Linked DNA regions of Homo sapiens. The protein of the gene in region 1 purifies or fractionates together with the protein of each later gene. This does not show direct contact. Each region holds a gene or a part of one and is shown in the gene's direction. Other genes may lie near its edges.

Region 1 (3,912 bases):
CCTGTAATCCCAGCACTTTGGGAGGCCGAGGCAGGCAGATCACGAGGTCAGGAGATCGAGACTGTCCTGGCCAACACAGTGAAACCCTGTCTCTACTAAAAATACAAAAATTAGCTGTGCGTGGTGGCACGTGCCTGTAATCCCTGCTACTCGGGAGGCTGAGGCAGGAGAATCACTTGAACCAGGGAGTCGGAGGTTGCAGTGAGCCGAGATCCGCCACTGCACTCCAGCCTGGTGACAGAGTGAGACTCCATCTCAAAAAAAGAAAAGAAAAGAAAAGAAATCTAACTTCTCCTTCCCGCTCTGCAAAGAGCAAAGGAAGCTCTTTGCAGTATATATTTTTCCATTTCCTAACTTGAGGAGATATATATGCAATTGTTTCCCTTAGTGTCTCCCTATATAGCAGCAAGAATAAGGGTGATTTAAGTGAATAAGTCTGATTTAATACTGAGCAAAAGTACATCACCTGAAATGGTAAAACAAAAGGCCATCTTTCTTCACCACAGAAATCCAAAGTGGATCTGTCTTATTGTATGTATTTTTAGAGATCTTTTTAATAAGCTGGTTGTTCAAAAAAGACTGAGTTAAAATCAGTGAATTCTGCATGTAGTCCCAGCTATAGGGAGGCTGGGGTGGCAGGATCGCTTGAGCCCAGGAGTTCGAGGTTAGAGTGAGCTATGCTTGCCTGTGAATAGCCACTACACTCCAGCGTAGACAACATAGCAAGACGCCGTCTCTTAAAAAAAAAAGTTCTTTTTTCAGTTGGTGAGTTTCTACTAGGAAGCCAACTTTTCAGTATGTATATATTGTTTTGTTTTGATTTTCTTAAAACAATGACTAGATAGCAGAGAGAAGTTTTTGAACTTGTTATCCTCTCATCATTGAAGTTATTTGCATTCTTGTTTATTGACAGTAGTTATTTGAAAAATGAGTGAGTAGACTAGGGCCAAAGAAAGATGGCCAGGCATGGTGGCTCACACCTGTAATTTCAGCACTTTGGGAGGCCAAGGAAGACAGATCACTTGAGCCCAGGAGTTCGAGACCAGACTGGGCAACATGGCAAAACCCTGTCTCTACAAAAAAAGATTAACCAGGCATGGTGGCTCACACCTGGAGTCCCAGCTACTTGGGAGGCTGAGGTGGGAGGGTCCCTTGAACCCAGAAGTTCAAGACTGCAGTGAGTCATGATCACACCACTGCACTCCAGCCAAGAGAATAAGACCCTGTCTCAAAAATTAAAAGGGGGACGGGGGTGGCAAGGAACTTTTTTGTACCTGTTAGCATAAAAGGTGATCTGCATCATAAAGTCGTCTCATTGTCATTATTTGCGGAAGGTACATGCTTTTTTCTAACAGCAACATATACATTCTTCCAGAAAAATTCATTTGATTTTTCTAACTTATTTTTTGTTTCCATCAATGTTTTCTTTTCAGACTTGGCTTCAACCAACTCAGGACATAGCGATTGCTCAGTTTCTATGGGAAACCTTTCTCCTCTGGCCTCCCCAGCCAACCTCTTACAGCAGACTGAGGACCAAATTCCTTCCAACCTAGAAGGACCGTTTGTGAACTTACTGCCTCCCCTGCTGCAAGAGGACTATCTCCTGAGCCTCGGGGAGGAGGAAGGCATCAGCGATCTCTTCGATGCTTACGATTTGGAAAAGCTCCCACTGGTGGAAGACTTCATGTGTAGTTGATTATGCTTCGTGTGAACTCTCCTTAAAAACCGATATTTTTTTATCATGGAACCAGAACATCTGTCATGCAGTGTTGTCCCTTCCTACCTTCTTCCTCCAAGAGAGTATCATGAAGTAAACTACAAACTTCAGAAGAAAGCTGACATTTTAATGAATTTTTTAAAAAATTAATAAACAAATTGTCTAAACGCACAGTTGCAGGCTCCCTTGGGAAAGCCCTGCTTTGCTCCAGGCTCCAAGATCTCCTGGCTAAGTCAGCAAGTGAGAAAATGTGCAATCAGGTGTCTCTCACCCCGAATTGTCCTTCCTCCTTCCTCCCCGGATTGGCTTGCTGTGCCTGACGGATGGGCTGTAGAATGGGGTCTGGCCACCTGGCCTGCTGGGAAACAGCAATCTTCCTTAATAGCATTTCAAGCCGTGCCTTCTCCGCAGAATGCATGTCTTTGAGGTCTGCTAATATGGAATGGAACTGCAGCAAATGCAAACTTGAAGTCATGCAAAAGTATGAAATGGATTTCTTCAGCTCTTCTTAGGAATATTTAAATTACTGTCATAATTCAGTTTAAGCTATGAACTGTGTGTCCCAGTAGGAGGTCAAGAAAACCTCCACAGCCTTCTGGATGAAGAACCTGTTTTCAAATATACTTGTTGCAGATACAGAAGACTAGTAGAGTTCTGCCACTCTAAGCTGTTGTGGATTTTCCTGTCTCCATGAACCACTCCCATTCCCCCGTCCCCAATGTGTTTGTGAGTTTCCAGTTGATTTGTAGCAAATGCCTACTTAGTTCTTTGTGGATTGTTCTAGACTTTTAATTTTTTTAGCTGCCATTTAAGCATTCCTGTGGCACCCATCACCATTTCAATTTAATTGTTTACTTTGAAGCGGTTTTTGCAAATTCATATTACTTAAGCAGAGGGAGAGAACCTCTACTGATCAGAGCATCTAAACCTGTGTGATCTAAGGTTTATCAGCCTCTGCAAGGAGCTTTGTCCCATCGTGCTTCCATTCCCAGGAGGGGGAGCTTGGAGCGAGTCAGTCCTGGGGCTTGCTGACATGGGTGGCCCATTGGAAAGGAGAACCAGGTCAGATGATGTAACAGCCCCAAGGAGCAGCAGGCATGGGTCCCTCCATCCTTGGGCTTCCCGGGCCCCTGTGACAGGGGAAAGGGCTCTCTTACACCGCACTCAGGGAGACCACTTCTCAGGATGGGGTCAGATGGAGAGACCTCTAGGGAGAAAGACATCCCCATTGTGTGAGTGGCATTTCCTTAAGCTGGCAGGAACAGGGAGCAGCCCTGTGTCGGGGGCTGGAATAGTTCTGGCCAGACCCCGTTCCCCTTCCTCTATGAAGGAATAAGTTGGACCAAGGGAAGTCGGGGACGTAAAAAATGAAGCAAAACAATGCCAGGGTGTCTCCCGCTTTACTCTTCAGGAATGGTGTCCCAAGTTGGAGGCTTTGTGTCAGCTGCAAATCCTACCAGTTATGTCCAAGAATGGCTTTCCCTCGGGCAGGTGGCAGCGGCCATCTCCCACTGGGAATATGGCGTAGTATCTCCGGTCCATTCCTTGGATGCTAAGGACTGCGGGAATGAGGGAGTCAGATAAAGAACAAACCTCGAAACGAACAGTTAAATTGAAATGCTATGTGCCTGACCCAATGGTAGGCACATAGTAGGCACTCAACTCATATGTTTAATTGAATTGAAAATATCCCTTAGGAAAAAAAAAAAACACACAAAAAACCACAAGAGCCCCAGCCAGTTTACTCCAGGTAGATTTCCACAATATGCAAAGTGGTGGTGGGGTCAAGACAGATGACACCAGCACTTTAAACTCTTTGTGTGGGTATGCGTGGGTGTATGTTTGGGAAGAAAAACAAAGGTGCAGACTATCTTCCTTTTTTTCTTCTTCAGCCTCCATCCCTGGCCTCCTCCCCTCACACACACTGGACTTGGTACAAAATGTCGGTGTGGTCCTAGATGAAGCATTGGGGTGGGGGAGGGAGAGGGAGCTTTGTGTTAAGTGCCTACTGGAAATGCACTGTGGGGTTTTTTCCTGTATGGGAAACCATTTATGCCAAGCTTTTCCCCATTTCCCATATTTATCTCATCTGGTTAGCTGCCTCTGCTTCCAGCTTTGTGTAATTCTCTTTGCCAGCTGCACAAAGCTGATTTTTTCCAAAGTCTAAAGACTGAGCTCACCTGGCTAGATTGTTG
Region 2 (3,912 bases), on another chromosome or scaffold:
TAAGGTAGGCTGGCTAAGCTGTGATGTGTGGTAGGAGAGGTGGATGACGTGCATTTCGACTTAGGGTATTTTCAGCTCATGCGGGTTTATCGGGATGTTCCTTGTAAGTTCCTCGTTGTAAGTCAGTTCCTCGTTGTAAGTCCACTCTTTGTGAGTAGGTTTGCTCCTGCCTGGAGGACAGCGGCACGGTGACGGCATCTGTTTTGGGGCCAAGATCCAGTGCCTTGCGTGGTCCTGGGATTCCTGGGGAAGGGAGTGGACCCATGAGGTGGGTTAGAATCGTGTGTGGGATTCTCCAGCCCCCTGTACCTGTGCGTGTGGTATGCGCGGAGCCAGCCAGCACTGCCTGGCGTGGAGCTGGCGGGTTCTCAGTCTGACATCAACTCCCGGAGAATGGCATCTGCTGAACTCAACGTAGGAAGCCGTGCGGGGCCAGCGCGCTCTCAGGCAGCCTGAGTGGCAGGGTCCTTTTGTCAGCTGTTTGGATCTCCCACGTGGCCCAGTGCCCCAGCAGCACACACACACACACACACACACACACGCGTATTGAACAAAACAAGTTTCACAGGACATTTATCCACGCCCAGGAGATTTATCTTTTGTATGGCTTCATTTTGCAGAAAATTCACTTGTTTGATTTCATGGCCTGGTGATCCACAGAAGGCCGCACTCTGATGAGTCTCTGATCATCGGAGAGATGAGTGTCAATGAAAAGATCAGTCCTTGAAATGTTTTTCTTCTCCGGAGCTGACAGGTGATCTGGCCTAGGGATAATTGGAAAGTGTCCCCGTCAGCTGCTCCCAGGGCCACCGCAGGTGATGCATTTATCCCCGTAAGAAGGGGAGCTGGGGGGGCCCAGCTTAGAGTAGCTCAGGGCATCGGCCACATGAAGCCCCCCCGCCAGCATACAGGTGTCCAGCTCCAATCCCTTTAACGGAAACTGCATGTCCATACAAGCAGTATAATCGCTGAGGCACTTTGATTTGTGGTGAATTGAATGATTTAACATTTACTGAGAAATAGTGTTTCCAGTTTAGATAGAGTCGTGCCACAAGATCTTTGAAAAGTCAGAGTTGTATTTGCCTGTATGAGGGTGTCCAGGTATTCACACTCGAACATTCATTGTTGGAACTAAAGTGGTAAGACCTTGTCAAGAGTCAGACCAGCCAGCATGTCCCTGAAGGGAGAGACAGTTGTTGACACCCTCAGGTGTGCTGTGGGGTGGGGCGGGTGGGTCAGTGTCCACACTGGCGTTGCCTCTGGTGGTTCCCCCCAGAGGGGCCCAGGTGTGTGAGCCCCAGGGGCGTGTGGAGCCCCTACCTTCCGCCCCCAGTGCTGGTGGCCCTCCCTCCTTGCCTGACGCCGTTGTGGGTGCAGGGGTTCCCCCAGACAGGGCCCCAGGGCACAGGGTTACCAGGTGATGGCTGTCACCCTGCTGGGCTGGAGGAGCAGCTGCTGTCACCCTGCCTGTGCTTTTGTCTTTTGAGAGCTGTTTTTGGTTTGTTTCAGGCCTCTTTTTAGTACCACAGAAGGATACAATTTCATCCTCATCCATATCACTAAAAGGAAGTAAAAGGGTGAAGGGAAAAATGGAAGCGTGCTCAAGTGCCCTGTGTGGAATTCTGTGCCGCCCCCTTCATTAAACTTGACCGTTAGCGCCTTGTGTGCGGTTTGGGGGTCACGCTCTGCCCTGTCCTGTTCTTGCTTGCTTGGGTCGTCCGAAGTTTCTTGTTGCTTTTGTCTAATTGGAGAAGATGCCTGTGACTGACAAGAGGAAGATGAGCCACATTCAGAACCGGTGGGGTGATGCCGTCACCGTGACAAAAGCGTCCACCGCTGGACGTTTTTCCTGCTCCGTCATGGCTGCTCACTGTGGTTAAGGAAATTCAGCAGTGGCTGCGGATAGCGAACAGATGGTGGGCATGGCACCCTCGCCGTGTGGGAGGGGACTGACTGTCTGAATTGTCTTTTTCGACTGTAGGTAATTGGTACGCCTCAGAGACCGGCAGCGTCAAACACCCTGGTGGTAGGAAGCCCACACACCCCCAGCACTCACTTTGCCTCTCAGAACCAGCCTTCCGACTCCTCACCTTGGTCTGCCGGGTGAGCACTTCCCTCTGGACCCTTAGAGTTGTAGGACTGCTTGCGGTTCGCACCTCCACGTTCTCCTGGGCCACGTGTGTCACACAGTCGTGCGATGGGGCTCCCACGCGCGTTGACGCCAGCCTCCGAATCACACTCACCCATCATCGTGGCCTGCACAGGTGTGCAGCCGAGGCGCACTGCCTCGGTCATGGAGAAGTCGGGCTGGGCACCGCCCACCCCGCTTTGTGTCTGGTGTAGTGGGTGCTCTCTGAAGGGCTGGCAGCTCTTGGCCAAGACGGGGAGAAGCTGGCCTCGTACTCGCCACAGGACCTCGGAGACTTTCCCTCGTCTGTGCTGGGAGCATGTGGGATGGATTTCACCCACTGCCCCTGAATTCAGCCTCTACTGCCCCTGGGGTTACGGCCCCCGCGGGTGGTCCCGCCAGAGCTGCTCCTTCCACTAAAGCAAGATCTGATGAGCTGTGTCTTTCCTTAAAAACACACACACGCAAAGCTGCAAAAGCCTGCCTGTGTTGGTGCCCAAAGCTTCACCAGCTAGGAACCTCAGGTGGCCTTTCCCGCCATGTGGGGACTGACCAGAGTGTACAGAGTTGGGCTTTCCCTCGACCTGAAGCACACTTAGTGCTTTGCACCTGTTGTCAAGCGGCTGTCACAGCCCAAGCTGTATGAAATTACAGCCTGCTGAAATTAGTCCTAAGAATTCCCAAATTTACACTGAAACGTCCCATAGTTCCTGATTCTGGCTGCCCTCTTTAGAAAAGTGGTGCTTGGGGCTCACGCCTGTAATCCTAGAGGCCGAGGCCAGCAGATCACGAGTTCAAGAGATTGAGACCATCCTGGCCAACGTGGTGCAACCCCGTCTCTATTAAAAATACAAAAAAATTAGCCAGATGTGGTGGCACGTGCCTGTAATCCCAGCTACTCGGGAGGCTGAGGCAGGAGAATCGCTTGAACCCAGGAGGTGGAGGTTGCAGTGAGCCGAGATGGCGCCACCGCACTCCAGCCCACGACAGAGCGAGACTCCGTCTCAAAAAAGAAAAAACAACAACAAAAAGAAAAGTGGTGCTTGGTGTACCGGCACATCTCCCATATGCTGATTTGGGTCCTGGGGACGCCTCCCGTTTTCCCTGACGCTTGGAAGGTTAGAGGTGCAGCCTGCTGGGGAGACACTCGCTTTCTGACCTGCAGGACCACTGGGCCTGGGGGCTGGGGCTAGGGGGTCCTGGCCTGCTCACGTGTTGGATCTGCTGCGCCCGTGGGACGTGGCCCCTTTTTGTGCAGCTCATTAGAGCTCTCAGGTAAAAGCATTCCTCGATTCAGGCTGATCCTCAGGAGGGCTGACAGTCGCTTCTCTTTTCCTTTGTATTTTGAAGGAAGCGCAACAGGAAAGGAGAGAAGAATGGCAAGGGCCTACGGCATTTCTCCATGAAGGTCTGCGAGAAGGTGCAGAGGAAAGGGACCACTTCCTACAACGAAGTGGCAGACGAGCTGGTTGCGGAGTTCAGTGCTGCCGACAACCACATCTTACCAAACGAGTCAGTAAGTGTGTGCCGGGGGCCGAGAGGCTGGGGTGGCGGAGCCCAGCGGTGTGGTACGTTTCGCTCTTTTAATATCGGGAACAGTTAAAACCATACAGAAAATGCCAAGTACAGCATAAAAGAATTTTTACCAAACGAGTCAGTAAGTGTGTGCCGGGGCCGAGAGGCTGGGGTGGCGGAGCCCAGCGGTGTGGTACGTTTCGCTCTTTTAATATCGGGAACAGTTAAAACCATACAGAAAATGCCAAGTACAGCATAAAAGAATTTTT

What was found.
Region 2: the proteins of E2F3 (region 1) and TFDP1 purify together in Homo sapiens (affinity purification with mass spectrometry; 3 studies listed by BioGRID and IntAct, with this or other methods). This does not show direct contact.

Annotation. Positions count from the first base shown.
Region 1 is NC_000006.12:20,488,735-20,492,646, forward strand, and holds part of E2F3 (transcription factor E2F3), read left to right. Parts: intron 1-1,433; coding exon 1,434-1,696; 3' UTR 1,697-3,912.
Region 2 is NC_000013.11:113,629,642-113,633,553, forward strand, and holds part of TFDP1 (transcription factor Dp-1), read left to right. Parts: exon of another isoform or gene 1-1,661; intron 1,662-1,981; coding exon 1,982-2,103; intron 2,104-3,478; coding exon 3,479-3,644; intron 3,645-3,912. UniProt on the Homo sapiens protein: Can stimulate E2F-dependent transcription.